Homo sapiens: one gene and its partners. The gene in region 1 interacts genetically with each later gene. Each region holds a gene or a part of one and is shown on either strand. Other genes may lie near its edges. The genes, in order: CHEK2, CDC6, CDC14A, ERBB2, LLGL1, RFC1 and DAAM1.

Region 1 (3,500 bases):
CCCAGCCTCTTTGTTTTCTTACTTTTAAAGGTGATGTATCCCATTTAGCCCTTTCTCACCATTTCTATTTCTCACTCATCTAAACCTATAGGCCTATCTGAAAAAATATATTGTATTTTATTTATTTGTTTATTTTTTGGAGACGGAATCTCGCTCTGTCACCCAGGCGGGACTGCAGTAGCGCAATCTCAGCTCACTGCAACCTCCACCTCCCAAGTTCCAGCAATTCTCCTGTCTCAGCCTCCTGTGTGGGTGGGATTACAGATGCCTGCCACAACGCCCCGCAAATTTTTTTTTCTTTTTTTTTTGAGATGGAGTTTCGCTCTTGTTGCCCAGGCTGGAGTGCAATGGCGAGATCTCGGTTCACTGCAACCTCTGCCTCCCAGGTTCAACCGATTCTCCTGCCTCAGCCTCCTGAGTAGCTGGGATTACAGGAGCCCGCCACCATGCCCAGCTAATTTTGTATTTTTAGTAGAGACAGGGTTTCTCCATGTTGGTCAGGCTGGTCTCGAACTCCCGATCTCAGGTGATCCGCCCATCTCGGCCTCCCAAAGTGCTGGGATTACAGGCATGAGCCACCACGCCTGGCCTAATTTTTGTATTTTTAACAGAGACAGGGTTTCCCCATGTTGGCCAGGATGGCCTCAAACTCCTGACCTCAGGTGATCCACCTGCCTTGGTCTCTCAACGTGCTGGGATTACAGGCATGAGCCACAATGCCCGGTCTGAAAAATATATTTTAAATCAGTTAAAAATAGCTTCGAGTGTCTACTTATAAATTTAAAGTTGTATATGTGGAATGCAGGTATATTCCTCCATTTTTTATAGTTTTTTCAAGATATCAAAGTTAGACATGAAATAAAACAAGGATGGTGAGTGACAAAACACAAAATGATACATCAGTCCTTCATTTCTTTATATTAACATATTCTATCCTGTTAATGCCAAGTTCAAATTTGTTTATTAAAGAGGTCATTGCAATGTAAGCGAAAGGAAAAAAAACACTATTTTTTTTGGCCGGAGTGCAGTGGTGCAATCCTGGCTCATTGCAACCTCTGCCTCCCAGGTTCAAGCAATTCTCATGTCTCATCCTCCTGAGTAGCTGGGATTGCAGACATGCGCCACCACACCTGGCTAATTTTTGTATTTTCAGGAGAGACAGGGTTTTGCCATGTTGCCCAAGCTGGTTTCGAACTCCTGGCCTCAAGTGATCCTCCCGCTTTGGCCTCCCAAAGTGCTGGGATTACAGGCGTGAGCCACCATGCCTGGCAATGTTAAAATACACACATGTGTATTTTAAACATATGCAGAGCAAAACTTACTATTGGAACCAGGAGGTGTCAGAAAGGGTCAACATGTTTAAATCACAAGGTTGGCTATTTTGAGACAAAAACAAGTAACAAGTAGTCAACAAATGGCCATCTCTATTCTGAACAGCTCTGATTCTCTGAAGCTGTGGCAAACCACAGCAGAGGTTAACTAGTGAAGCTTTTGTGATTAGGGGATAATGTTTGCAAGTTTGAGTGAATCTGCATTTTTCTAGGAAGAGGGTCCAAAGCTACCTTCAGATCTTTGGATGGACAGCACATTGTAAATGTCCAATTATTATTTGTTGAAAGAGTAAATGAACAGAATCCACAGCAGGTAACAGCCAGGGCAACACCCAATACTGCCTCTTTGGTTTTACCTTTTATCACATTCAAACTCCAGAATTATTCTAAGAGTGGCTCAAGCATTCTGCTGCAACTAACTAAGGCAGGAAAATAGGGTCTGAAGGCAGGGAATCTATGGCCAATTCACGCAAACTTCCTGGAATAGATGGGCACGGTTGCTCATGCCTGTAATCCCAACACTTTGGGAGGCCGAAGCAGGAGGATCACTTGAGGCCAGGAGTTCGAGACCAGCCTGGCCAACGTGGTGAAACCCCGTCTCTACTAAAAATACAAAAATTAGCCAGGTGTGGTGGTGTGTGTCTGTAATCCCAGCTACTCAGGAATCTGAGACAGGAGAATCGCTTGAACCCAGGAGTCAGAGGCTGCAGTGAGCCGAGCCGAGATGGCGTCACTGCACTTGTCTGTGCGACAGAGCAAGACTCCGTTGCCAAAAAAAAAAAAAAAAAAATTCCTGAAACTAAACAAAAAAGGAAGAATTTGCACTCTGGCCTATGATCCGTCCATTCTAGGACCTTCATTTGCATAAGGCGTCAATCCACACCAGTCTTGGAATGGCCGAGCTCCAATTCACTTTGGCCTCTAATGGGCTGTGAGCCAGCACTTCATTTACATAGGATGTAAACAGTGGGAGACCTCTAGAGGGTACTTGAACCCCAGAAGACTTTGCTACAAGGGCTCTGCAGCCACTTGCTCAGGCCTGCTCCCATCCTGTGACATGTACTTTAGCTTCTATTGCCTTCCACTTCAATAAATCTATGCTTTCATTGCTTGTTCATGCATGATGTTCAATTATTTGTTCAACGTGCCAAAAACCTGGACAACTCCAATCAGAACCTTCCACCTGGTAATACAACTTTCTGTAAGTGTTTTTCTGAACAAAACGTGATACTATACAACAAAGGGTCTTACCAAGATTGGCAAATCCATCCTGAAGGGCCCATAATCGAGCCCAGGGGGCAGGGGTAGGCTCCTCAGGTTCTTGGTCCTCAGGTTCTTGGTCCTCAGGAATAGAATAGAGTTCCTGAGTGGACACTGTCTCTAAGGAGCTCAGTGTCCCAGAGCTGGAGTGAGAGGACTGGCTGGAGTTTGGCATCGTGCTGGTAGAGGAGCTGGATATGCCCTGGGACTGTGAGGAGGAGCCTTGGGACTGGGTAACGCTGCCATGGGGCTGTGAACAGGCACTGCTGCCATGAGACTGCTGAGCCTCAACATCCGACTCCCGAGACATCACGACCTCAAAAAGAAAGTGTCCAACAACAAAGGTGAGTTTCAAGGCACAAGACTTAAAATTAAAAAGTAAATGATGGGCCTATTACAACAGCAAAAGAAAAGAAAAAAAAAAAAACAGGGCAAACATGCTCTCCAAAAATTAAAAGTCCTAACAGCCCAGACCTATAGTTCTTCTGGGCTGAGCTTTTCACCAGATCATTGTCACCAGATCAGTTTTTTATCTGACAGCCATAAACTACAGGGAAAAACAAATTATCTGAAGGTTACAAATAAGTAAAAAGCAATAAAATTGAGCTGGGGGGCTCATAAAAGCTTACATTTGTCCAATTCTTTTAAATTAAGACTGAAACCAAAAATGTACTGATACAATCAACACTACATTTAAATTTCATATATACAGGGGGCCAGGCGCGGGGGTTCACTCCTGTAGTCCCGCACTTTGGGAGGACAAGACGGGCAGATCATGAGGTCAGGAGTTCAAGACCAGCCTGGCCAACATAGTGAAACTCCGTCTCTACTAAAAATACAAAAAATTAGCCAGGCGTGGTGGCGGGCACCTGTATTCTCAGCTACTCGGGAGGCTGAGGCAGGAGAATC
Region 2 (4,800 bases), on another chromosome or scaffold:
AGATGGCACCACTGATCTTACTACAGTAGTCCCTTCATCCACCGTTCTAGTTACCCTCAGTCTGAAAATACTAAATGGAAAATTCCAGAAATAAACAATTGACAAGTTTTAAATTGCATGCTGTGGAGTGCCATGATGAAATCCCGCACCATCCTACCCAAGACATGAATCATCCCTTCAGCCAGCATATCCACACTGTATATGCTATCCACCCACTAGTCACTTAGTAGCTGACTTGGTTATCAAATCAAAAACACAGTATATGTAGGGTTTGGTACTGTCCTCGATTGCAGGCGTCCACTGGGGGTCTTGGAATGTATCCCCCATGGATAAGTGGGGACTACTGCATTTAGTAGAAACCAAATGGGTTTTAGTAGGATGAAATTGTAAGGCTATTTTGAAACAGGTTTTCTCAACCTTGGCACCACTGACATCTTGGACCAAATAATTCTTCATTGTCAAGGAGCTGTCCTGTGCATTGTAATGTCTAGCAGCATCCCTGGCCTCTACCCACTATGCCAGTAGCAACCCCCAGCTGTAACAACCAAAAATGTCTCCAGAAACAACCAAATTACCCCCCATTTAAAAATAAATGTTCCAAAACAAGAAAGAATTACCAATCACTGTCCTAAAGGATGGAAAATATTCATCATGTCACGTTTTTGTTTCTTTTAATTTCACAAATATTGAGGTAAGTTTCATAATACCATGTAACTACAAGGTAACTTAAAACATTGACAGAACTAAGTTCAGTATTAAGGAATTGAAGATCAGACTTATTAAGTAGTTCAGAGTGACCTCAGTAAGTGTCTAACTCTGGAGTTCGGTAAGCACTTAGCAACCATTCTGAAAATAACTAAAATGAAGAGTAGTCTTAGGCCAGGAGCGGTAGCTCATGCCTATAATCCCAGCACTTTGGGAGGCCGAGGCAGTTGGATCACCTGAGGTCAGGAGTTCAGAGACCAGATTGGCCAATATGGCAAAACCCTGTCTCAACTAAAAATCCAAAAAAAAAAAAAAAAAAAATTAGCCAGGCTTGGTGGTGGGCGCCTGTAATCCCAGCTACTTGGGAGGCTGAGGCAGGAGAATCGCTTGAACCCAGGAGGCGGAGGTTGCAGTGAGCCAAGATCGCACTATTGCACTCCAGCCTGGGAGATGGAGCGAGACTCTGTCTCAAAAAAAAAAAAAAAAAAAAAAAGAAGTCTTAACTGAACTTAGAAAGCTCCTTCAAAGGACACACATCTTACCAAGAAAAGAAAGGTCACGAGCTGCTAGTGAAAAAGTGATATAATGGATGGTTTACCCAGACGTTTCCTGGGGCTGAGAGGCAGGGCTTTTACACGAGGAGAACAGGTTACGGTTTGGACATTTGTTGGTTCTAGTTTGGCATCACTGGAGTTTTTAGCTTTGTTCAATGCCCGAGACAGCTTCCTTTTTGGAAAACTGATTGTAGCCTGTGCCTGGGATCGGGTTTGAGGCATGACGACAGCACAGCTAGATTAAAAAAAATAAGAGGACAACTAGTCAATATGTGAAAGTGAAGAGAAAATAACTAACATGGAATTTATTTATACTGATGATTAACACTTATTTCCTAATTATGTTATCACACTTATTTTAGCATTCACTTTTGCTTCACATCCAAATCTATGCAAGAACAGCTGACATTTGTTGTCTACCTACTACGTGGAAGGGCGCTGTTATAAACACTTTAGGTACCAACTCGTTTAACAACGATCTTAGGAGTAGGTACTATTATTAGCCTTTATTTTACACATGAGAAAACTGAGATAAACAGTGGCCCAAAGTCACAGAAAAACAGGAATGTAACCCCGGGCATCTGGTGCCAGAGCCCAAGTTCTTAACCAATTGAGCGATGCAATAACAAGTTACCTGAAATGGGCCGGGCGCGGTGGCCCACGCCTGTAATCCCAGCACTTTGGGAGGCTGAGGCGGGCGGATCACCTGAGGTCAGGAGTTCGAGACCAGCCTGACCAACATGGAGAAACCCCGTCTCTACTAAAAATACAAAAATTACGGCCAAACGCGGTGGCTCACGCCTGTAATCCCAACACTTTGGGAGGCCGAGACGGGCCGAGACCATCCTGGCTAACACGGTGAAACCCCGTCTCTACTAAAAATGCAAAAAATTAGCCGGGCGTGGTGGTGGGCGCCTGTAGTCCCAGCTACTCGGGAGGCTGAGGCAGGAGAATGGCATGAACCCGGGAGGCGGAGCTTGCAGTGAGCCGAGATCGCGCCACTGCACTCCAGCCTGGGAGACCGAGCGAGACTCCGTCTCAAAAAAAAAAAAAAAATTAGCCGGACGTGGTGGCGGGCGCCTGTAGTCCCAGCTACATGAAGAGGCTGAGGCAGGAGAATGGCTTGAACCCGGCAGGCAGAGGTTGCAGTGAGCCGAGATCGCACCACTGCACTACAGCCTGGGCGACAAGAGCGAGACTCCGTCTCAAAAAAAAAAAAAAGTTACATGAATTGATTTATATAGAACTTCTAGTTTCCTCCCTCCAGGCACGCGGGGTGTCTTTATCACCAGTTCAGCCCAGCACCCGCCACATTTAGTCTCTTCTATCCCAAGCCCTCACACTGCAGCTCAGTCTTCCCTCAGTTCTTTCCGCCCCTGCACTCAGTCCTCATTCTAGGCAGCTCTCAACGCACCCCAGAATATTTCCTTCCTACAACTTTCACCTCCTTCACACCACGCATAACTGCTAGAACTACCCCGAGGGCACCTGCCCTTTCCCTGATCCCGACCTCAGACCTCCAGCGAGCTCAGCTCTTTTCCCTTCACTTCACCTCAGGCCTCGCCGGAACCCGCAGCCTTCACCCAGCTCCGCTGCCTCACAGACCCCAGGCCTCCTCGAGCAATCCTCTTCTTTCCACCTCCTCAGTGCAGGATCCTTCTCACGTCTCTCACACGCAGCCTCTCGGACTCACCACCACAAGCCCCTGAACAAACTGCACAGCGGCAGCAGCAAACTCCAGCCGCGCTCGCGCCAAATCCGAATGGCCACAGCGTTCCCACCTCCCGCCAAAGCCCGGCCTCGATTCTGATTGGCTGTAGTCACAGAGCCTTTCGCCTTGGGCACCGCCTCTTTTTTTGCTACCAATCCAGTGGAAGAGTTACAGCCAATGAGAGAGCCCCAAGTCTTAGAGTCGCTGTGAGGCCACGACCACTGAACGGGGGAGGGAATCTACATCCGGGGCCTCGGTGGAAAGACGCGCGATTGCGGCAGGGCGACTCTGGGTAAAGCGGGCCGGCCCGCCGCAAAGCACGCTGGGAGGCGTAGTCTTTGCTGCCGCGCAGTCGCACTCTTCCTTCGACTGGAAGTGTCAAGATGTGGTTCCCCTTCTCACTGCCTAAAGTACCCATTTGCATCATCCTGATGGGCTAGATTTTCAGAACTGCTACATGATACCTACCGTTTTGGGTTCTGTGCGCCAGGTATGATGCTAGGCACTTTCCTTACCTCTCTAATGCTCAACCTCGCAAAGTACAAAGCAAACTTCTATACAAGGTTAGAGGTCACAGCATCTTGGTGACAGTGAAGAGCCTAGGATCCAGATCTCCTGATGGCTGAACTAGTGATTTTTATGGTAAAGTTCTACACACCTATATAAAGAAAAACTATGCTTCATCATAGTATCTCTTGATTTGTGCTTCAAAGGTGAGAAACAGAGCCAACTCTTTACTTTTATTTCGTTCAACCTAAGAATATTATGTTCTGTGCATCTTCTTACCATTAATCCACACATCATGGGGAGGGAATTATGACCCCTTAATTTTAAAATCTTTTATGGCGAAACACTAGGGTTTCAGGGCCAGGGAAGACAGCTATATAGAAGAGGCAAGCTGAGTTTTTAATGAAAAATATAAATTAGCGCAGTAATTTGAAGGCCAGCTTCCAAAGCCAATAATTCATCTAAGCCTCAGGTTCCTTTAGAGGCCAGAACCCAATTCTAGGTGATGGTAAACATTTATCTTTTACCCCTCAGTAACAAACAAAATAGAGCCATAAAGCCTAGAAAGAGGGAAGCAACAATATTACGATCATCAGTGAATTGGTACCTAGTTCATGAAGAGAGCCAATATTGAGTGCTTAAGTGTATGCCAGGGGCTGTGCTCAGTATTTTACCTACATCACCTTATTAATCTTCACAAGCACCCCCATGAACCTGGTGTTATTTCACTTTACAAATGAGGGAACTACAGTAGAGGGGAGTTGAGTAAACTTGCCCAAGGTCACACAACTAGTAAGTGGAAGAGCTAGAATTTGAACTCTGAACTCTGACAGAAAATCAAACTCTTGACCACTTTATCATAGGGGGATGATTAGACAGATTCAGGTTCTAAACAGGAAGAGATGGTGGAGTACATTTCGTGAAGGCTTTTTAGCAGCTGAAAACTACAAAAGTGAAGAGAATGGGCTGCCATGAATGGAGAAAGTTACCACACAATGGAAGCTTTTTTTTTTTTTATTTTTGAGACAAGTCTCATTTTATCACCCAGGCTTGAGTGCCGTGCCATGATCTCGGCTCACTGCAATCTCCACCACCTGGGTTCAAGCCATTCTCCTGCCTCAGCCTCCTGAGTAGCCGGGACTACAGGCACGCGTCACCACGCCTGGCTAATATTTGAATTTTTAGTAGAGGGGTTTCACCATGTTGGCCAGGTTGGTCTCAAACTCCTGACTTCATGATCCACCCACCTCAGCCTCCCACAGTGCTGGGATTACAGGCATGAACCACCGCTCTTGGCCACAGTGGAAGCTTTTAAAAGGACTA
Region 3 (4,165 bases), on another chromosome or scaffold:
CTGGACCTCTACTTCCTCCTTTGTTAAGTAGTGATAATAACAGCATCTAACTCCTAGGCTTGTTCTGAGGATTAATTGAGTTAATGTGTGCGTGTAAACCACTTAGAACACTGCCTGGCACAGGGCTATACATGTTAGCTGCTGCTGCTGCTGCTGTTGTTGTTGCTATGGCTTTATTATTATTCCCACAATGAAATTTGTCTCGAGGTTCAACCAAATCTCCTCTTCTGTCTATATCATAGCAATTTATAATGAGAATTGAGGTTCTAAATGATGACCGTAAGGCTCTATCAGATCATATATATGTGTATGTGTGTATATGCTTAAGTGGCATTCAACCTTCCATTAAATTATCCTACTTGCTATACATTTAATTTGAAATAAAAATTTAAAAACCAAAAGGGTTTCTCCTGACCTACCTCTAACCTAAATATGCATTCCCACAAATATTTCTAGGCAAGAGTAGTTTTTCCATGCTTCTCTCATAAATATTCTATGTTCACATTTTGACTCAAAACTATGCTATAGACAAGATAAAAGAAATCATTTTTCTATAAATTACTTATCCAAAACTTCCTGGATGCATTAATATCAGGCTGCTTTAATTAAGTTTAAATGAAAATTGAATGTTTTAAATTATTTAAATCTTCCATTTAGCTAATTAGTTCTCATTAGAGGCTGCTCATTCTTAACATGCTAAAACATTTGGTGAAATTCTTCAAGTCACTTCAGAAACTGCTTAAAATTCAGTCCCTAGAGTTTCTCCCTAAAGAGCTCTTTCCTGCACTTTCAATACCTTTCTTCACAACTCAAAAAGAGAAGAAATGACAATGGACAGGCTGAAAATGAAGACCCTATACACTATCCTTCCCAGCAAACTGGCTTTCTATGCCATGAACATCCAACCCTACACCCATGACCACCACTAGGAGGGGCACACAGATGTCATAACAAGTAATATATTTCATTTCACTAACTTTTTAGCCACACAAAAGTAAGCCAAGTTATTAAAAGTAAGCGCCTGTTTGGATTACGGGGCCCAATTCCAATACCAAAGAACAAGCCTTTCCAGGGAGTGGTGTGTTATTTGTAGCTTAATCAAATGCAGATAAATCTTCTTTGAAAGGCTCCCTTTTTGTGGAGCTATTTTTGTACCACTAGTGTGTTAGCCTATACTTTGATTTTAACTCTGACCTGTGAAATCATAACCCAAGGACAAAGGATGATTTCTTATCATCCTCATTTTATTAAAGCTGCCCAGGCCTTTATAGTAATAAGTTCTGTTTTAAAAAATCAAGCAGATAATTCAAACGTTCACTTTTAATAGCCTTACCTCATGAGGCCACCTCATTAAATTTTCTCCACCAGCATCTCAGAAGGTTGACATTTCAATCATGGAATGCTGTCCTCCTTTCATAACTAAAGAAACATCTGCGCAAAACACAGCTGTGGCCAGAATATCCACAGCCTAATATTTAAAGAGTCTACTTCCTGATTCAAAAACAATCGCTTCTAAGGTGATAATTTAGCCAGAAAAGCAGCATTTCTTTCTTTTTTTTTTTTTTTTAAGAGATGGGGTCTCACTATGTTGCTCAGGCTGGCAGGCTGGCTTTTCAGTTCAACTGCAGGCCTCAAGCAATCCTGTCGCCTCAGCCTCAAGAGTAGCTGGGACTACAAGCACACCCAGCTGGAAAAGCAGCATTTAATTTAAACATTCAGCAAATAATTACACAGTACAAAGGCCTGTGTGATAATGAATATAAATATATTCTTCTCCTCAGAGACATGCACATTATGATGTGATAGTCAAAATCTTTCTCGCTGTAGGACGTCCTCCAGACAGAGCCCGGGTTACTAGACATCCTTCTAGGGGCTTTGCAGTCTCTCTCATTCTATACTTCCCCAAAGTGGAGCTGACGAGATGGAGTCAGTCCTTCTCCCTTTCTCCTTTCCCCTTCAGTGTTTGTCCACCTCTTTGTTGCGTACTTCCACCTTCCCTTGCTCCTCCCATCCTGGTTCTACTTGTGAAATACAGACCTTGAGACCTTCTCTATCTTCCCAGAAATCGCATCATTCTCACAGCTTTATTAGTCTCTTTGGGAAAATTCCCAAATTTAAGAACCTCAAATGTATGTGATATCTAACAGTGATGTAAATATCCCTTAAATTTCTTAAATTCAATCTGGCCAAAATGGAATGCCTGATCTTCCCACCAAAGCCAATTATTCCACCCTCCTTCCTTATTTCAGTTAAGAGCTCCAGTAGGCTCACCACAACCTAAGCTGTCTTAAGGACTTCTTTGATCCCTCTTTTTCCTCAGCACCCCTCCACGCCACCCTCCTGTGTTGCCAGGTCACATGGCTTCAGATCGCTTCTTTCCATCACCATTGTCACCATCCTAATCCAGGTACTTGTTTCTTTCCCCTGAATTTTTTTTTTTTTTTTTTTTTTTTTAGACAGAGTCTTGCTCTGTAGCCCAGGCTAGAGTGCAGTGGCGCAATCTCAGCTCACTGCAACCTCCACCTACCAGGTCCTGGTTCAAGCAATTCTCCTGCCTCAGCCTCCCAAGTAGCTGGGATTATAGGAACACGCCACCATGCCCAGCTAATTTTTGTATTTTTAGTAGAGACGGGGTTTCAACATGTTGGCCAGGCTGGTCTTGAACTCCTGGCCTCGTGATCCACCTGCCTCGGCCTCCCAAAGTGCTGTGATTACAGGCGTGAGCCACTATGCCTGGTCCCCCCTGAATTTTTTTAAGTGGGCTCTTATCTCCTTAACAACCCCTCTTAAATGATGCTACTGTATTAATTTTTTGAGAAGGATATATGTCCTCTGCAACTAGATGACTTGGTTTCAAACTCCAGCTCTGCTACTTTTACTTCTGTGACCTTGGGCAAGTGACCCAGCTTCTCTATGCCTTTTTGTACAATAAGGATAATAGTGCCTGTCTCACAGAATTGTTGTGAAAACACAATGAATTAATAGTTATAGAGCACCTAGAACAGCATCTGGCACACATTTAAATGCTCAATAAATGTTTCCCATTGTTTGTAATTAGCACAAATCAAGTCATACCATGGCTGCCCCAAATCCCTCAAGAGTCCCATGGTGTACCAAAGAAACTGCAGGTTTCTCACCCTGACATTCATTCTGTCCCCAGCCAACATCTCAATTTCACATTCTCCATCCCCTACATGTTCCCTGAATACACACCAGGCAAACTGGAGGACTTACTGTTCCCTGAACACACGTCCCAAGCCTCTCCCCTCCTCACACTTGCTGTTTTCCAAGATCCCTCCTCTCATGTCTCTGCCTGATAAGACCTTGTCCATCCTTCAAGCCAATCTTAACTCTTCCACGAAGCCTTTGCTGAACGCTTCCACCAGATGTGCCCCTACCTGCCTGTGAATGCCTCTCCTAGCATAGAGGTTGTATTTCTCTTTGGGCAGGTATCTTTCCTATACCTCAAACTGCAGTTCTGTTATTTTCCCTACAGGCTTGGAGCTCTTTGAAGGTAACATATGCATTCAACATTGTTTTATTCTCTGCATCACCTAGCACCATGTAATATGTTGGGGTAACAAAAAAGATGGAGTTGGAGGTGTCAGAGCCACAGCCATTACTGTGGCACAGTAGGGTAAGTTCAAACTAAGAAAAGTACACACTCTGCCCAGGCTGAAGTCCTCATCGTATTTCAAATGTCAATCCCAACTCACAATATAAATTGGATGGATTCTCCAGCAAGTCTTTCCTTATAAGATACCAGAAAAACAGTAGACTATAAGAGGAATATGATTTGTAGGCCTATCCCAAAATACCAACATGAAAATCACATTAAAAATTTCCCTCATCTATCAATATTAAAATCAAAAAGCCATCATGCACAGTGTTTAGTTTGGCTTAATTTTCTGCTAGATCTACCACCTAGCAATCCCAAGAGAAGTGACTCAGATCTCCATGGCTAGAGCTCATTCAATGACATATTAACAACCACTGTACTGTAGAATTGAACATAATGATATATACACCATCCCCACTCTCAGACTCATGAGAGACCCCCAAAACCTAAAATCACAAAAACAGAGGCACAACAATGCACATTCCCAACAACAGAGTGAACACTCAATAAACACTGCTGGCAGTGACATCATCCAGGTACACAGCC
Region 4 (3,898 bases), on another chromosome or scaffold:
CCAGATGGGCATGTAGGAGAGGTCAGGTTTCACACCGCTGGGGCAGCGGGCCACGCAGAAGGGAGGGTCCTTATAGTGGGCACAGGCCACACACTGGTCAGCCTCCTGGGGGGGGCAGAAAAGATTTGTGGGGGGCTGGCACTGACACCCCCAGGGCAGTAGGATCAGGCCCTTAGTTGGGTCCCCTTTGTGCTTCCCAAGGCCACCCAGCAGCAATTTTCGCCATGCTCCTGGGACAAACACCCTTGCTCTTCACCCAGTCTCTGTGGCCCCTCCCTCGGGGCCCTCCTCCAAGCTTGATCCTGGGCAGGGACTTGAGCCAGAAAATGGGAGGCACCCAGAGAGGAAAACGCATTACCTAAGGTGTAACAGCGAGTAACAACAGTCACTGCTCTGTAGAAAGCCTTTCCCGTGCTTCACTGTGCCAAGCCCTGTTTAATTTCATTCTTGCCACACCCCAGCAAGGTAGGTATTATTACAATACCCATTTTAGGAATAAAAAACCAAGGTTGGAAGCAGGAGCTGGGTCTGAATCCAGGTAGTCTGACGCCTGAGCCCACAGGGCTCACCACCCTAGCACAGCCACAGTCACAGCCACCAACACAGACCTCCTTAGAACCTTTTCATAGTCTGAAGGGCCCCAGTGTCCCCCAGGCCCCTTTTCTGCCACTCTGTTGCTGTTCAGGTCTGAGCGCTGAGCCCTCTCCAGGGATATTTTACCAGATAGCACACCCTACTGCATCTCGCCATCCTGCCAAGTCCCTGGCAATCCCCCTCGCTGCCCCCCTCCACCCAGCTCTGAGCCCGCCAGCAGCTCACCGGTCCAAAACAGGTCACTGAGCCATTCTGGGGCTGACACTCAGGGTGGCACGGCAAACAGTGCCTGGCATTCACATACTCCCTGGGGAGCCTGAGAGAAGGGACAGTGGTGAGGGGGTCTGAGAGGAGCCCCATGCACCCCTCCAGCCACCCTCTCCTCCGCCCCTCATACCCCTGCAGTACTCGGCATTCCTCCACGCACTCCTGGCCCCGAAGGAACTGGCTGCAGTTGACACACTGGGTGGGCCCTGGACCCCAGCAGTGCCCTCGGGCGCACAGCTGGTGGCAGGCCAGGCCCTCGCCCACTGCAGTGAGGAGGAAGGGACCGCAGGGGACTTTTAGGGGAGGCCCCAGGTCCAAGTGAACCAGGGAACTGGCTGTGGGCATGGCTGTGGGCTGGAGGGGTGGGGACAGGTGGGGCCGATGTAGGGAGAGGAAGAGTTCTGAGATTTCAGAAACAGAGGGGGAGGGAAGGATGCCAAGGCAGGTAGGACCCAGCTAGAGAAGCCATGCCAAGAGGCCAAGCCAGCCAGAGCTGTGCTGAGTCAAGAAGGGTGCACAGAGACGGGCAGTCTGCACAAGTCCAAGAACGCTGCTGCCAGGGCCCCCTGGGCACTGCTGTGTGCTGGCAGATGGGGAGTGCGCACACTGGGCTCCCTGTCTTACCACACTCGTCCTCTGGCCGGTTGGCAGTGTGGAGCAGAGCTTGGTGCGGGTTCCGAAAGAGCTGGTCCCAGGGCACCGTGTGCACGAAGCAGAGGTGGGTGTTATGGTGGATGAGGGCCAGTCCACTGCCCAGTTCCCTCAGTGAGCGCAGCCCCAGCCAGCTGATGCCCAGCCCTTGCAGGGTCAGCGAGTAGGCGCCACTATGGGAGAAAGGTGGGCACCTTACCACGGACCCCTTCCCGGTCAGCAAAGGCTATTCTCATCTTCCTCCATCCCCAGCACACTCTGCAGACTTTCATGGAAAGGTTACTGCTACAGGAGTACTCCCTCAGGCCCAAAGCTTCCCACAGGGACTCCTCCCTGGGACTCCTCCCCATCAGGCCCCCTCTTTCTCAGTGCTCACTTGTGCAGAATTCGTCCCCGGATTACTTGCAGGTTCTGGAAGACGCTGAGGTCAGGCAGGCTGTCCGGCCATGCTGAGATGTATAGGTAACCTGCAGGCAGAGGGTGAGATTAAAGGAGTGGGGACAGGACAAGGACTCCCAGCCCCTGCAGAACAGGATGCAGAGACAGAGCCCACCTGTGATCTCTTCCAGAGTCTCAAACACTTGGAGCTGCTCTGGCTGGAGCGGGGCAGTGTTGGAGGCTGGGTCCCTGGAGGGGTCAGGAGAGGAGTCAGCAGGGCCAGGAACAGGGTGGACATCACTCCCAGCACTGGCCATGCCAGCCACTCCCCACCATGAATGCCTTCACTCAAACCCTTTGCCCATCGAGCCCAGCTGTTCCCATCCTGGGCTTCAAAGCCCAGGCCTTAGTTCGGCAACATCTATCAAAACAGTATTTATATCCTTTGATCTAGAAATCTTATTTCTGCCTGGGCTCAGTGGCTCACGCCTGTAATCCCAGCACTTTGGGAGGCCGAGGCGGGCGGATCACGAAGTCAAGAGATGGAGACCATCCTGGCCAACATGGTGAAACCCCATCTCTACTACAAATACAAAAATTAGCTGGGTGTGGTGCCGCGCGCCTATAGTCCCAGTTACTCGAGAGGCTGAGGCAGGAGAATCACTTGAACCCGGGAGGCAGAGGTTGCAGTGAGCCGAGATCACACTACTGCACACCAGCCTGGCGATAAAGCGAGACTCTGTCTCAAAAAAAAAAAAAAAAGAAAAGAAATCTTATTTCTAGGAATGTGGCCTAGGGAGACACTGGCCCATGTTCCCAGAGCCACACACAAAGTGGAACTGTTTGTAAGAGTGAAAATGGAACATGATCTAAATGTCTATTAGTAAATAGGGGAGCTGTTAAATAAAACCCCGAGCCACCCAGCCACATAATAAAAACCAACATTTAGGAGCACCTAGTATCTGCCAGGCACTGTTCTAAGAGCTTTACAAATATTAACTCATTCAAACTTTATAATCATCTGGCCAGGCATGGTGGTATAACCATCTTATGAAGTTGGGACTGTTCTTGCCCCCACTTTACAGATGAAGAAACTGAGGCACAGCACAAGGGTCACATGCCTAGTAAGTGGTAGAGCCGGGTTTCAAACCCAGGCAGTCTGGCTCCCAAGTCTGGGCTCTTAGCTGCCTCTCCTTGCCGCCACCTGCTCTGCAGCTATTGAAAGAACAAGGCAGTTCAATGGGAACTGTCATGACCGGCTCTCAAAGCAAGGTGCAGACAGTGCTCCCTATATGTTCCCATTTACAGAAACCAACCTCCCCACCAAAACGACGAAAACCACACTTCACTGTGTGTGTGTCTACAGATGCATAAACGGTCTAGGTGAACACACACACTGTTAACCATGGCCCCCTCTGGAAAGGGGAGTGGAGGTAAAGGAAGTGTGAAAGGGAATTTTTTTTTTTTTTTTTTTTTTGAGACAGGGTCTCATTCTGTCACCCAGGCTGGAGTACAGTGACATGATTTCAACCCACTGCAACCTCCACCTCCCAGGCTCAGGTGATTCTCCCACCTCAGTCTCCCTAGTAGCTGAGACTACAGGTGCGTACCACCATGCCCGGCTAATTTTTTGTGTTTTTTTGTAGAGATGGGATCTCACTATGTTGCCCACGCTGTTCTTGAATTCCTGGGCTCAAGCAATCTTCCTGCTTCAGCCTCCCAAAGTGCTGGGATTACAGGTGTGCACCACGGCGCCTGACCCTTTTTTTTTTTTTTCTTTTTGAGACAGGGTCTCACTCTGTCGCCCAGGCTGGAGTGCAATAGCGAAATCTCAGCTCACTACAACCTCCACCTCCCGAGTTCATGCAATTCTCCTGCCTCAGCCTCCCAAGTAGCTGGGATGATAGGCGCATGCCAGGAAGCCTGGCTAATTTTTTATATTTTTTAGTAGAGATGGGGTTTCACCATGTTGGCCAGGCTGGTCTTGAACTCCTGACCTCAAGTGATC
Region 5 (4,165 bases), on another chromosome or scaffold:
CACCATAGCTGAGGGTGGCAGGTCAAGGTGGAAATAGGCATAGACCAGCAAACCACAGTGAGGAAGACACCCAAGGCTCCTCCTTGACCCGGACTATTCCAGTGGGCCCCGGCATGGGCCTGACCATCCAGGAGTCCTCCCTGAAGAACGGAGGCCCCCTCCCTAAAGCTCCCACTCTGCACCCCTACAGTATCCCCAAGATCAGTGTGCAGGCTCCACTCACTCCTGCAAGTCAGGTGCTGCTATAGGACCTTCACTTCCCGTAAATTGGGCCAGTGACTCCCACTTTACAGGACTGTTGCAGATCAAGTGAGAATAAACACACCCAGCAGGCTTGGCCTCAGCCTGGTGAGAGGATGGGGCTCCGCTCCACTTCAGCTCCGTGTGTCTATGGGTTCTGGGAGCTGCGCCTTGCCGGATGGGATCAGGCAGGCCAGAGGTGCAAGGCCAGGCCTGGACAAGAAAGCCAGGGGGCAGAAGAGTCCAGGCTGCCTTTTCCCACAGCTTCAGGCCAAACTTCAGCCATGGGTAAGAAAACCCACCTCCTCTGGGCACGGTGGCTCGCTCCTGTAATCCCAGCACTTTGGGAGGCCGAGGCAGGTAGATCACAAGGTCAGGAGTTGAGGACCAGCCTGGCCAAGATGGTGAAACCTCGTCTCTACTAAAAACGCAAAAATTAGCCGGGCATGCTGGCAGGCACCTGTAATCCCAGCTATTTGGGAGGCTGAGGCAGAGAACTGCTTGAACCCGGGAGGCAAAGGTTGCAGTGAGCCAAAACTGTGCGACTGCACTCCAGCCTGGGCAACAAAGAGCAAGACTCCATCTCAAAAAAACAAAACAAAACAAAAAAAACCCACCTCCCTCCAAAGCAGGCAGCCAACAACTGCCATCATGAGGGAGGAGAGACTCCAGCCTGCCCATTTCACAGATGAGCACACAGACTTGGAGGGGGTGGATGACCTGCTTGAAGTGCCCAGTGTCAGTGCCTGAGTCCCGGCAACTCCAGGGCTGATGGTGGACAGCAGGGCCTGAGGGGGCCCCATGACAGAGGGTGCAGGGAGGAGTCAGCAACGTTGCCCCGGTGACAACACAGGAGCCGTTGCCTGGAGCTTGAGCTCAGATTCCCTACAGGAGCCTGGCGAGAAACTCCGAAGAAGGGACAAAAGAGGGGACAGGAGCAGCTGGGCGGGAACCAGGGTCGTCAAGGAGATGGGGCTGGCCTGGCAGGGGGAGGGGCAGCTTCTAGTGACCAGGGCTGGCCCTCTCCAGCCTCAGTTTCCCAACCCAAGGGGCTCCAGGCAGTGGCAGTCAGGGGAAAAAGGGAAGAGGACCCCGGGCTCCAGCCTCCTTTCTGAGGCTCAGTCTCCTCATCTGCACTTCAGGTTCTTTTTGAGCCTGAGGACAAGTGCACTGGAGACCCCAACACAGGAGGGACACCTGAAGGCTGCAGGGACACATGTGCGCACGCAGCGCAGCACCCACAGGAGTGGGAGCAGCAGGCCAGGCAGCGGAGCATGTGGGGCCCAGAGCACTGCCACACTCACCAACAGAGGCCGCTGGGGCCATGGGAGAGAAGGGGACATCTCAGCCCATCCACACTCCCCAGAGTAGGCAAAGAGCTCACAAACCACAGGCTCAGAGTCCCATCCCTGCCTGATCAGTGCCCCCAGTCCTGGGGTGAGGAGACCCCCATCCCACACCCTCCCCTTTCCCAGCACTGACACATTTTCTGGGAACTGATGTCTGAAACCAGGATACTGAAACCCAGAAGGCCACACAGGAGGGGTAGGGGTCAGCACCCCTCACCAAGCCGCCATCAGCCAGACCCTGGCACCTCGGCTTCCCCAAGAGCAGTTGGGGTGGGATTCTCCAGGGCTGGCAAGGAGACACTGAGCTGCCGGCCTGCCCCCACCCCCACCCCAGGCCTGCAGGGAAAATGCCCGCTTTGTGTGGCTCACACAGCCCATTGTGCAGCAGCCAGTATCCAGGTGGGGGCCGTGCTGTGCTCACCATGCCGAGCCTGGCACTGCCCCCAGGCCCCTTTGCTGAACACATGTGTCTTCACATTCACACATGTGTGCATCAGCTCACCAGGGCCCCCAGCCCACCTGCCACCCTCCATGGGTATCATAGCCCAGCCTTCTGCCTGGCCTCCCCAGAGTTGCTGGGACGATGGCAGGGTCGCCTAGGTAACTGGCTGGCTGACACGTAGCAAGGGACAGCTGTGCTACTGCAAACTGACCCCCCACCACCCGTCTCTCAGCAAAAGGACCCCATCATCTCTGCACAGTTGTCTCAGGTACAGAAGCCACGCCAACCTCCGCAGAAGCCCCCACTACTGCCCATCAGAGCACCTCTGTCCTCCTCTCGAGCTGGACACTGCCAAGACTGGGACCCCAGAGCACAGGGAACTACAGGCAGGTGGTCCTGAACAGACCCTGAACACCTGTCCTGCAAAGGATACATCTTGACAGCCCCAGACCTGGTGCCGATGGCCATGATGCGAAGTTCCGGGTCGAAGGCCAGGGCGCTGGGCTGATTGGGGAAGCCATGCTCCACAGTCTGCAAGGAGGGGAGGGCTGCTGGGGGTAAGCACTCCCAGGCACCTCTGCCATGGCCCACCCTGAGGCCCACCCCAAGGCAGCCTCCAGGGTCTGCAGCTGACACACTGGGGGTAGGAGGCAGGTCTACTTGCTCTGTGCCTCAGCGTCCTCAACTGTGAAATGGGTTATCATGCCTCCAGTTGGTGGGGAGGTGGCTAAACCCCTAGCCTCCACCATGACTGTACCGCGTGCATAGTCCACAGAGGCCCGCCCTTTGCCAAGCCCCTGTGCCCCTCAATGCACACAGGCTCATGTGGGCCCCACTGCATGGAGGCTCCAGCAACAAACAGGTGAAGCAAGGCTCACAGAGGTGCAGGCACTGATGAGGCCCCACCTGCTCCATGAAGGGCTCTGCACCCCATTTTTAGAGGCACAGACTAAAGCTTGCGGAGGAGTCCCGCAAGATGACCATGACACTCCCCAAACACAGGCCTGAGTGGAGGTCAGAGGTCAAGGGACAACATCCAGGATCAGCTAGGCAGAGGCTTTTGACTCCTCCCAGACACAGGGAGACAGAGGCCCAGAGAGGGGTAGCTTTCTGCCTGGACCCCGAAGGCATCCTCCCACCTCCCCACCTGCCAACAGCTGGGCAACATGACTCCCATAACCATCAGGGGCGGAGATGGTGTTAAGGGGGTCTGTGTGCCCAGAGTGTCGATGAAACAGCTCCCCACCCGCTCCCCTGCCCCTTTCACAGCACACCCTTTCTGCACCAGTCTCCTGTCTTTGGCCTGGCTGTGCCCTCCCTGGGAAGCCTGCACAGCTGAGCTCCAGCCCCATCCTGAACACCAGTGCAGGACACCCACGTGGGCCACTGGTAACTCCTTTTATCTTGTTGTTGTTATTTATTTTTCACTTTTACCACTGGTAATTCCTGACCCACTGCCTCAGGAAGATGCACATTTGTAAGAAACCCCAGTTCCCAGCCTGTAACGCGAACCTCCCTCCCTGCCTGCCTCTGCCCATCCAGGTGGGGACTGAGCCCTCTGGGCAGCTGGTTTGGTCACGGCCTAGCTGTCTGGCCTTGGGCAAGTCACAGTACTCTCCAAGACTCAGTACTCTCCAAGCTTCAGTCTCTCATCTGGGCCCTTGGGACAGTAAGCCCACCTAAGGACAGAGTTGGCGATTTGGCTGGGGCTTCTCTCTCCCACCAATAATACCACGCCCTTGCTGCACCTGACCTTGTCTAGCCAGTCCCTCGCTACAACCAGGGTCCAGAGACGGGACACTGCATCGCAAATCCCCACAGCCTTCCCATTTTACAAACGAGGAAAGGAGGTTACATGCACTGTCCAGCATCTGCTTCCCTCATACCCCACGTCCAGTCCATTTCTGAGCCCCATCAACTCAGTTTCAAAACACACAGAAGTCACCTCCCTCCCTGCTCCAGGCCCCACCGTCACGTGCCTGGATTGGTACTCACTACAGTCTGTTCCCACAGAGGCCAGAGGGATCCTATGAAAGCCACAGCCAGATCCTTGTCCCTCCCCTGCTCAGGATCCTCCTGGGGCTCCCAGCTAAGGGAGGCTTGTGCCTCAGGGCCTTTGCACCTACTGCCCCTC
Region 6 (3,868 bases), on another chromosome or scaffold:
CTATTTTGAGGTTCTCCTGTCTGTGGCTTAAAATACTACCTTGATCATGGCATCAGTTTCTATAGCATCTTGGTCTTTCTCATCAGATTGAGAGTCATCTTCATTTAATTCTTCATTGTATTCCGAATCCAGGGATGGGCTTGTGCTGTGTCTAGATGCCTTTATAGCTTGAAGTGAGTATGGAGTAAGGTGGGCTTCCTTATTGTAAGCTCTTGTGAAGGCTGCTTTCACCTATATGAAAGGAGTAGATGGAGTTTTTAAAAATCTAAGTCCCAAACAATTCTTTTAAACTCTGTAAGCCTAAAGAGACCCTGGGAGCCCCCTGCAACTGTTTGCAAAGTATTTATGTATATACATGTAAATCTAAGTACGTGCATTTTTCTGTGGATAAGTTCCATATTTTTCATAACATTCTTAATAGAGCCCATGACAAAAAAGACTGAAGGTGGGGCACAGTGGCTCATGCTTCTCCATGAGAATCTTGAACCCAGGAGGTGGAGGTTGCAGTGAGCTGAGATTGCGCCACTGCACTCCAGGCTGGGTAACAGAGTGAGATTCTGTCTAAAAAAAAAAAAAATACGTATATATATATTTGGGAACTTTAGGCAAACAAACAAACAAAAGGTCACTTCAAGTCATCATGTTTACCTATTCAGCATTCTCCACATTTCTACAAAGTAGTAAGCAAAGTTAATCAGTGAATCAGTAAATCAAAAAGGGGCTCGGCTGGGTGTGGTGGCTCACGCCTGTAATCCCAGCACTTTGGGAGGCCAAAGCAGGCAGTTCACATGAGGCCAGGAGTTTGAGACCAGCCTGGCCAACATAGGGAAACCCCATTTCTACTAAAAATACAAAACTTAGCCAGGCGTGATGGAGTGCACCTGTAATCCCAGCTACTTGGGAGGCTGAGGCATGAGAATGGCTTGAACCCGGGAGGCAGAGGTTGCAGTGAGCCGAGATCGCACCACTGCCCTTCAGCCTGGGCAACAGAGCTAGACTGTCTCAAAAAAAAAAAAAAAGGTTGGGGGAGCTCATCACAAGATATAAGTTGGCCTTTAATTTCCACAAAACACTAGATACCTTTTCCATAATAAGAGTAGTTACTTCAAAATACTAAGTAACTTGAAAGTCTTACCTTCAAGCTTCTAAACATAATTCCTGAATTAGTCCATGAATTCTAACAATGGATGTCTGCTGTGAGAATTTACTGATAACCATAAAGTCGGGTCAAAATTCTGGGGAGGGCAAACTACAGAGAATATGTCTTCTAAAACGCATTCATTACACAGGTGCAAGAGTTGGGTATTGGATGTTACATATTCATGATGTATCACTTTAGTTTTTTTCGTCTCATTATAAGAAAAGTGGGGATACATTATTACAGAGAAGATTATCCAACTGGAATAAATACTGAATCCACAGATTAGGTAGACTAAGAAAAAGAAAATTTGTACAAATCCTCAGCCAATAAACATATTTTATTTTTACAACCCATTACCACCAGAGCTCACCGCTCAACTTTTAATTCCCTAGACTCATCCACTCATCCTTTATAAAGAATATATTTATATTTGCTCCTCAAATTTCACTTCTTGCTTTTCCACTGAGCATAAAGCAAAGATAAAAATACAAATTGTAAAGTCAAGCCCAGAAGTCTACTCTTAATACTGCATTCAAATAGTATCTTTGGAAAATATAGGCCATAAGAAGCAACAAGCATTTGAGGGGAAAAAGAAGTAAATCTTAAAGCATCTAAAACACCTCCGAAGTATTGTCAGTACAAACCTGGTAATAGAAAGTGACGAAGAACCAGTGAGTGACATGATTTACCTTGGGATCCAGCTTTGAAAAGGGACTAGGTTTGCCACCCCAGCTGCTGATTTCCATGATATTCTCAAAGTCTTCTTTCATCAAATAATATGTGTCCATAAGTGCAACAACATCCTGTACTCCGTCTACTCCTTGTGAGGTCAAGGGCTGTACAAGTGCATCCCTTAGAAGCGACAGATAATCCATGTTTACAGTCCTTTTGCTGGAGTAAGTTCTGAAACCACAACAAAAGAGACATAGTCAACAGCAAAGTATCAACTCAAGTCATACTGTGCATAACAGCACTGAGTTAATCAGGCAGAGTTCAATCCAATTTCAATAATGCTGAATGGAATGCCTACTATTTGACAGCCAGCTGGTGTAGTTTAGAAAGCCCAGCACCACAGCATGAGGGTAATGGGTACACATCAATGTGCCCAAAGGAAATTTTCTACTTACCTACATCAGTGACTGAAAAACATACGTGGATTCTACTTCCACCCTACTCTTAAGGCCCAGGCAACAGAATGTTTCTTTGTGTTCATAAATATGACTCGTTCCAAGTTCCAAAATATTAAAAGCATCAGTATAAGGCAATGAAATTCCCTATCTCAAGTGTGTGAATGTGTATAACACCTTTTGGTCCCTGATTATAACACACAAAATCATATATGAATGCTTCCCTCACATTTCCTAATACTGTTACTCTGAAATCGTCAGTTCTAGAGCCGGCTTTTCTCCAAATCTAAGAAAATTACAGAGTGTTCCCACAAAATCAAAAAGTGATCCACAGTGGCCAGAGGAAGGTTTAGGGAAACAGTCTCTGGTCTGCTGAGAACTCGAATGTTATCATAAAATGACTCTTTCTTTCTCTCTTAAATGTTGTCACTTCTTAAAGACAGAAAGCAACTGAACAAAACAATATTTCAAATGCCACCATCCTAAATCTTTCCAACCCAGCTGCCTCTATCTTCAAACCAGGCATTTATATGTATACATTATTTATTTATTTATTTATTTATTTATTTATTTATTTATTTAAAGACGAAGCCTCACTCTTGTTGCCCAGGCTGGTGTGCAGTGGTGCAGTCTTGGCTCACTGCAACCTCCACCTCCCGGGTTCAGGAGGTTCTCCTGACTTAGCCTCCCAAGTAGCTGGGATTACAGGCACCCGCCACCACACCCGGCTAATTTTTTTTTTTGTATTTTTAGTAGAGACAGGGTTTCACCATCTTGCCCAGGCTGGTCTCAAACTCCTAACAGGTGATCCACCCGCCTTGGCCTCCCAAAGTGGTGGGATTACAGACGTGAGCCACCGCACCCAGCCTGTATACGTAAAACTTCAAAAGTTGTTGTTATCAGAACCAGCATCAGAAGCAAAAAGAAATGATTCTTTACAAATTGTCTATGGGTCCTGCTCCTGCCTTCAAGGAACTGAATGTGTGAACCATAAGAAGCCACAGCTTTTTTCCTGATCAGAAATCTAGACTCACCCTCGCAACTATTACCTAGACAAAGAGTTTTTAAAACTCTCCTAGTTTAATTTCATCCATTTCCTCTAGATTGTCTTCCATAATTAAGCACGCTAGTACTTAAAGGAAGCAGTGTGAGTCCCTAAGCCACAGTACCCCCAGAAATCATGAAACCATTTCCAAAACTGTTCTACAATGTTTTACAGTATCATCATCTTCTAATAGACTCATAGAAAAGTCAAAGATGCCATTTAGTGCACCTAAACCAAGGGTTCTTAACCTCAGGAATCTGTAATTCCCCTAAAAGTGTTTTCTTTGTGGATCTGTGCATTGTCAGGGGAATAAAAATCAAAGCATTCAGATTCTCAAAAGCATCTATGACTCCCAAAAAGGTTACAAACCAATAAGATCACTCTTCCATTTTTTAAAGAAGAGAAACGGACCTACAAAAAGTTCAGTGACTTGATCAGGGTTAAAAAGTAGGGAGGTCTTAATTTACTTTAAAAATTATGAATTCACTATAAATGTCTTTGCTGATAATAATGGCCTAAATATGACCCAACTACTAGATGAGGAGGCCGCAGTTC
Region 7 (4,165 bases), on another chromosome or scaffold:
CGGTGGCTCACGCCTGTAATCCCAGCTCTTTGGGAGGCCGAGGCAGGCGGATCACGAGATCAGGAGATTGAGACCATCCTGGCTAACACGGTGAAACCCCATCTCTACTAAAAATACAAAAAATTAGCTGGGCGTGGTGGTGGACACCTGTAGTCCCAGCTACTCAGGAGGCTGAGGCAGGAGAATGGCGTGAACCTGGGAGGCGGAGCTTGCAGTGAGCTGAGATCGCACCACTGCACTCCAGCCTGGGCGACAGAGCAAGATTGTCTCAAAAAAAAAAAAAAAAAAAAAAGTATAACAAGATGAATGATTAAGAAAAAAGAAAAACCTTCTGAAATCAATGTCTGTTCAAAAAATTTTATGATTGTGTAGCCTAATGGCTAACAAGCCTTTTGTTTTCATGTTTCCCTTCCTGGCAATATGCCGTTAAGGCATAGCTTTCCTATTATTTCCTTGTGTTTTAGTCAATTGTCTTCATTAAATATTGTCTAAGTGGCACAATATCTAGTTTTAAGCCAAAAGGAAAAGATCTATTGTAAGTCACGAAATCGCACCAACTGCATTGGAAATTGAACTTGCTTCCCTGGTTTTCCCCATTTAATTCACAACTGTGGCTATGGTTTAAAAGAATAGAAATTGTTTATTTGGCACCAAATTTGCTCCACTGTAAAAATAAATAAAAGTATCTCTTCTGAGGTGGGGGGAAAAAGTTTATTTTAATATCTAAGGCTATCCAATATTAGATTACATGTTTGACTACTGCTCAAGTGTTCATTATTTTCTTTTCAAAAGAGCTTTCACAATGTATGTTAAAAGACTACAGGGAAGAGGGAGGCTGAGAAATTATGGGCCCTCTTAACTCTCAACACAGGCTTCTGTGGCCCTGTTCAGGGTGAGAAGATCTTTTATCAGATGAGGGATTCAACCCAGTGAAAAGTTACCTCACTTAACAAATAAGGTCTAATGCTGGACAGGCTCCAAACAGATTTAGAGTTGTAATATAAGAGCATTTCCTTTTTCAAATAATTTGTCTATCGTTCATACAGCAAAGGAGAGCTCCAAAGTTTTATCATTTAAATACTCAAAAACAACATTTTTAATCTCACACAACATTTTCTGTTCCAGAAAATCAGGCTGTAAGAACCTGTGACATGAAGAAGTCATTTTACTCTCAATTAATCCAGGACTTACTGACCCAGCACTGTCTGAGAATTAAGAGACTCAAAGGAAGCTGTGATTACCCCAACTCGAGTTGCAGAGAAAAGAATAACGTGCCGGAAAGTCAGAAACCAGGCAACATCAGGATGTATAAAGAACTAGACTGCTTGAGTCCCTAACCTGGTCTGCCACTTACAGGCTGTGTGGCCTAAGCTAGGCAAGTTCTTTAACTTCTCTGTGCCTCAGTTTCCTCATCTAGAACATGGCAATAAAAGTATCTATCTTGTATAATTATGTGCAGTCAATGACGTAGCCCATGGAAAGTATTAGAAAGGGCTTGGCATGAGGTAGGCACCTCACATACAATATCGGTATCAAATTAGCTGTAAGTGTTGTGTGGTCAAGCTAAGTGCTTTAAGGAGGAAGGGCAGGGAAGGCTTCGTGGAAGCTGTGGCACCTGAGCTAGATATGAAAGCACAAGATAATCCAGACACTCAGAGGGAAGCACATTCCAGACGTGGACAGCCATTACTGCAGAAAGTCACAGACAGAGTAAAAACCAGGAACGCTTAAACATCAATGAGGAAAACAAGCTCACCAAAGCTGAGGGTGTATTTGGTAACCCCAGATTAATTGGGAGTGATGGGGAAGGCTCTGCACACTTGTTGCTGTGCTTCTAGGACTTAACATTCAGTTCATTTTTAGACACATGTTCTATGTATGCAAACTTGTGGACTATGAATGCAAACTCTCCCTGAAATGCTCTGTTCTCCCCCTGCTCCTAGAACAGTGGAAAGGATACTAAAAAATTAAAAGGTAACCTTTTATTTCTGAAAAAAAAAATCTGCTGGATGAAATATAGGTCACTAAAATCAACTTGAATCTCATGTTCGTCTGTCCCTGTTTCAGTGGGGCTACAAACAAGGTGACAGCTCAGAGAAAGGGGGTGAACTTCAGATCCACACTTCAACGCTGGTCTCTATCAGCAGCCTCAGCCACTCTAAATAATATAATCTACATAAAAGACAGTACACTTGCTAAGTGAATGCATCTTCAAGAGGGGTATCATCCACCCTAGCCTGATCTGTCAACCAGACATTACCTCCAAGCCACATACAGAAATAGAGAAAATGCTCTCAGTACCAGTTTCTTAAATAGTACCTGTGCAATCAATTTCCTCTAAACTTTGAGGGTTTTGTTGTTGTTGTTGTTGTTGTTGTTTTGAGACGGAGTCTCGCTCTGTAGTCCAGGCTGGAGTTCAGTGGCGCAATCTCCGTTCACTGCAAGCTCCGCCTCCCTGGTTCAGGACATTCTCCTGCCTCAGCCTCCTGAGTAACTGGGACTACAGGCACCCGCCACCACACCCGGCTAATTTTTTGTATTTTTAGTAGAGACGGGGTTTCCCCGTGTTAGCCAGGATGGTCTCGATGTCCTGACCTCATGATCCTCCCGACTTGGCCTCCCAAAGTGCTGGGATTACAGGCTTGAGCCACCGCGCCCGGCCTAAACTTTGAGGTCTTGAAACCACTACAACAGATGCTGTGCGTACTTAAGATTGGTATTCACTTAGAATATTACCTCTATTACCAAGTTAGAAATTGTAATACCAAAATAAGTCACCATATTCCTCATCCAAAGAGGAAAAAATCACAACAGAATATAGAACTTCTATTTTGACTGGTGTCCCCTCTAGAGAGAAAACAAGTTTGCTAACCCAAGTTGGACACCTTGCTTTGTTTCCGGCAATATAAGGATAGACTTAACACTGGAAATACCAGAGCACGGCTTGAAGCCAGGGAGGGCCCCACAGCAGTTACAAGCTCTGTGATTATTTCCTGAACCAAACACCTAGGGCACTCAAGGATACCAAGCTTTGTTGGAAAAGCATGTTTCCTCTGGTCCAACAGCTGCAACTTTAAAGTGTTTTCACACAAGACCTCAAGTTTCTCTTTATGCCATCTCCCAAATATTTACAAAATGAAACACTTTCAATCAGAACTTTTGCTTGTAAACACCTTATTTGTTTTAAGGACCATAGTGCCAACACTAAAAGCAGCCTTTTAAACAAAGTAGCTCAAAACCACACACACACACACACACACACACACACACACACACACACACACCCCTTAACAAGCAGAACATGTCCACAAAACAAGAAAGCCAGGATTCAAATTCCTTAGCACCTATTCATGGAGCTCCTGTAAGCACCACCCAAGGATGTGACCCACCACACCCTCTTCATTATCACACCTCCTCACTAATTTACTAATTTATGCTCCTGAAAACCCACAGAATCAGACTACTGGATGGTAACATGTTACAAATATTGGGCAAATGTTCTTTCACATTTCTTTCACATCAACCAGCCTGAAACAACTGATCCTGTTTACGGAACGGCTCTGCCTCAGGTGAGAGGACTATTGTCTCCCAGCTCTTCTGGGAGACACTGGTGGCCTGGCAAAGGCTTCTGGGTATCTTTCTCTTGGTGTCTCTCCCTATTCACGTGTCACACACCTCCTGGGAAGATTATCTGGGCCAAGGATAGTGCAACTGAGAGAAATCTAGAAATGCCTGGTTCAGGGGTAATAAGAAATTGTAACTACAAAGAAACAGTCGATGTGAGTGAATGTATTCTAAAAGCAAATAATTAGGAAATATGTCTATTTCAAATACATAGAAGGCCTTTTATGCCAGACAAGTTTTGGTTTATGATGAAATGAAACTGCTTGATAGAAAAGCTAAGGGGAATATTACCACGGATGACAGAACTATCAGTGGAAATAATAGACCTTGGATCTCCAATCATAGTTCTGCTACTTAATATTCGTTTAACATATATTTATTAAAGACCTACAAATGAACAAACTGCTCTAAATGCTGGGGGGACAGAAAAGGACAAAACAAAGACACTGCCCTCAAGGAGCTTATAATCTAGTAGGGTAGACAAGCAGAAGAATGAAGGAAATTTTCATTTAATGGTAAGTTCCAGGAAAAAAGTGACAAC

Evidence for each region.
Region 2: changes in CHEK2 (region 1) and CDC6 are lethal when combined (synthetic lethality), as found in Homo sapiens cells (one large-scale study listed by BioGRID).
Region 3: changes in CHEK2 (region 1) and CDC14A are lethal when combined (synthetic lethality), as found in Homo sapiens cells (one large-scale study listed by BioGRID).
Region 4: changes in CHEK2 (region 1) and ERBB2 together harm fitness more than expected from each alone (negative genetic interaction), as found in Homo sapiens cells (one large-scale study listed by BioGRID).
Region 5: changes in CHEK2 (region 1) and LLGL1 are lethal when combined (synthetic lethality), as found in Homo sapiens cells (one large-scale study listed by BioGRID).
Region 6: changes in CHEK2 (region 1) and RFC1 are lethal when combined (synthetic lethality), as found in Homo sapiens cells (one large-scale study listed by BioGRID).
Region 7: changes in CHEK2 (region 1) and DAAM1 are lethal when combined (synthetic lethality), as found in Homo sapiens cells (one large-scale study listed by BioGRID).

Annotation. Positions count from the first base shown.
Region 1 is NC_000022.11:28,731,821-28,735,320, forward strand, and holds part of CHEK2 (serine/threonine-protein kinase Chk2), read right to left. Parts: intron 2,908-3,500; coding exon of another isoform or gene 2,902-2,907; coding exon 2,583-2,901; intron 1-2,582. UniProt on the Homo sapiens protein: Serine/threonine-protein kinase which is required for checkpoint-mediated cell cycle arrest, activation of DNA repair and apoptosis in response to the presence of DNA double-strand breaks.
Region 2 is NC_000017.11:40,286,102-40,290,901, reverse strand, and holds the start of CDC6 (cell division control protein 6 homolog), read right to left. Parts: upstream 3,024-4,800; 5' UTR 2,812-3,023; exon of another isoform or gene 2,770-2,811; intron 1,495-2,769; 5' UTR 1,482-1,494; coding exon 1,304-1,481; intron 1-1,303. UniProt on the Homo sapiens protein: Involved in the initiation of DNA replication. Also participates in checkpoint controls that ensure DNA replication is completed before mitosis is initiated.
Region 3 is NC_000001.11:100,355,148-100,359,312, reverse strand, and holds part of CDC14A (dual specificity protein phosphatase CDC14A), read right to left. Parts: intron 1-4,165. UniProt on the Homo sapiens protein: Dual-specificity phosphatase. Required for centrosome separation and productive cytokinesis during cell division. Dephosphorylates SIRT2 around early anaphase.
Region 4 is NC_000017.11:39,713,527-39,717,424, reverse strand, and holds part of ERBB2 (receptor tyrosine-protein kinase erbB-2 isoform a precursor), read right to left. Parts: intron 2,140-3,898; coding exon 2,066-2,139; intron 1,980-2,065; coding exon 1,889-1,979; intron 1,707-1,888; coding exon of another isoform or gene 1,686-1,706; coding exon 1,486-1,685; intron 1,155-1,485; coding exon of another isoform or gene 1,125-1,154; coding exon 992-1,124; intron 911-991; coding exon 820-910; intron 359-819; coding exon of another isoform or gene 257-358; intron 106-256; coding exon 1-105. UniProt on the Homo sapiens protein: Protein tyrosine kinase that is part of several cell surface receptor complexes, but that apparently needs a coreceptor for ligand binding. Essential component of a neuregulin-receptor complex, although neuregulins do not interact with it alone.
Region 5 is NC_000017.11:18,228,338-18,232,502, reverse strand, and holds part of LLGL1 (lethal(2) giant larvae protein homolog 1), read right to left. Parts: intron 2,563-4,165; coding exon 2,465-2,562; intron 9-2,464; coding exon 1-8. UniProt on the Homo sapiens protein: Cortical cytoskeleton protein found in a complex involved in maintaining cell polarity and epithelial integrity. Involved in the regulation of mitotic spindle orientation, proliferation, differentiation and tissue organization of neuroepithelial cells.
Region 6 is NC_000004.12:39,289,809-39,293,676, forward strand, and holds part of RFC1 (replication factor C subunit 1), read right to left. Parts: intron 2,045-3,868; coding exon 1,831-2,044; intron 232-1,830; coding exon 40-231; intron 1-39. UniProt on the Homo sapiens protein: Subunit of the replication factor C (RFC) complex which acts during elongation of primed DNA templates by DNA polymerases delta and epsilon, and is necessary for ATP-dependent loading of proliferating cell nuclear antigen (PCNA) onto primed DNA.
Region 7 is NC_000014.9:59,191,269-59,195,433, reverse strand, and holds part of DAAM1 (disheveled-associated activator of morphogenesis 1), read right to left. Parts: intron 1-4,165. UniProt on the Homo sapiens protein: Binds to disheveled (Dvl) and Rho, and mediates Wnt-induced Dvl-Rho complex formation. May play a role as a scaffolding protein to recruit Rho-GDP and Rho-GEF, thereby enhancing Rho-GTP formation. Can direct nucleation and elongation of new actin filaments.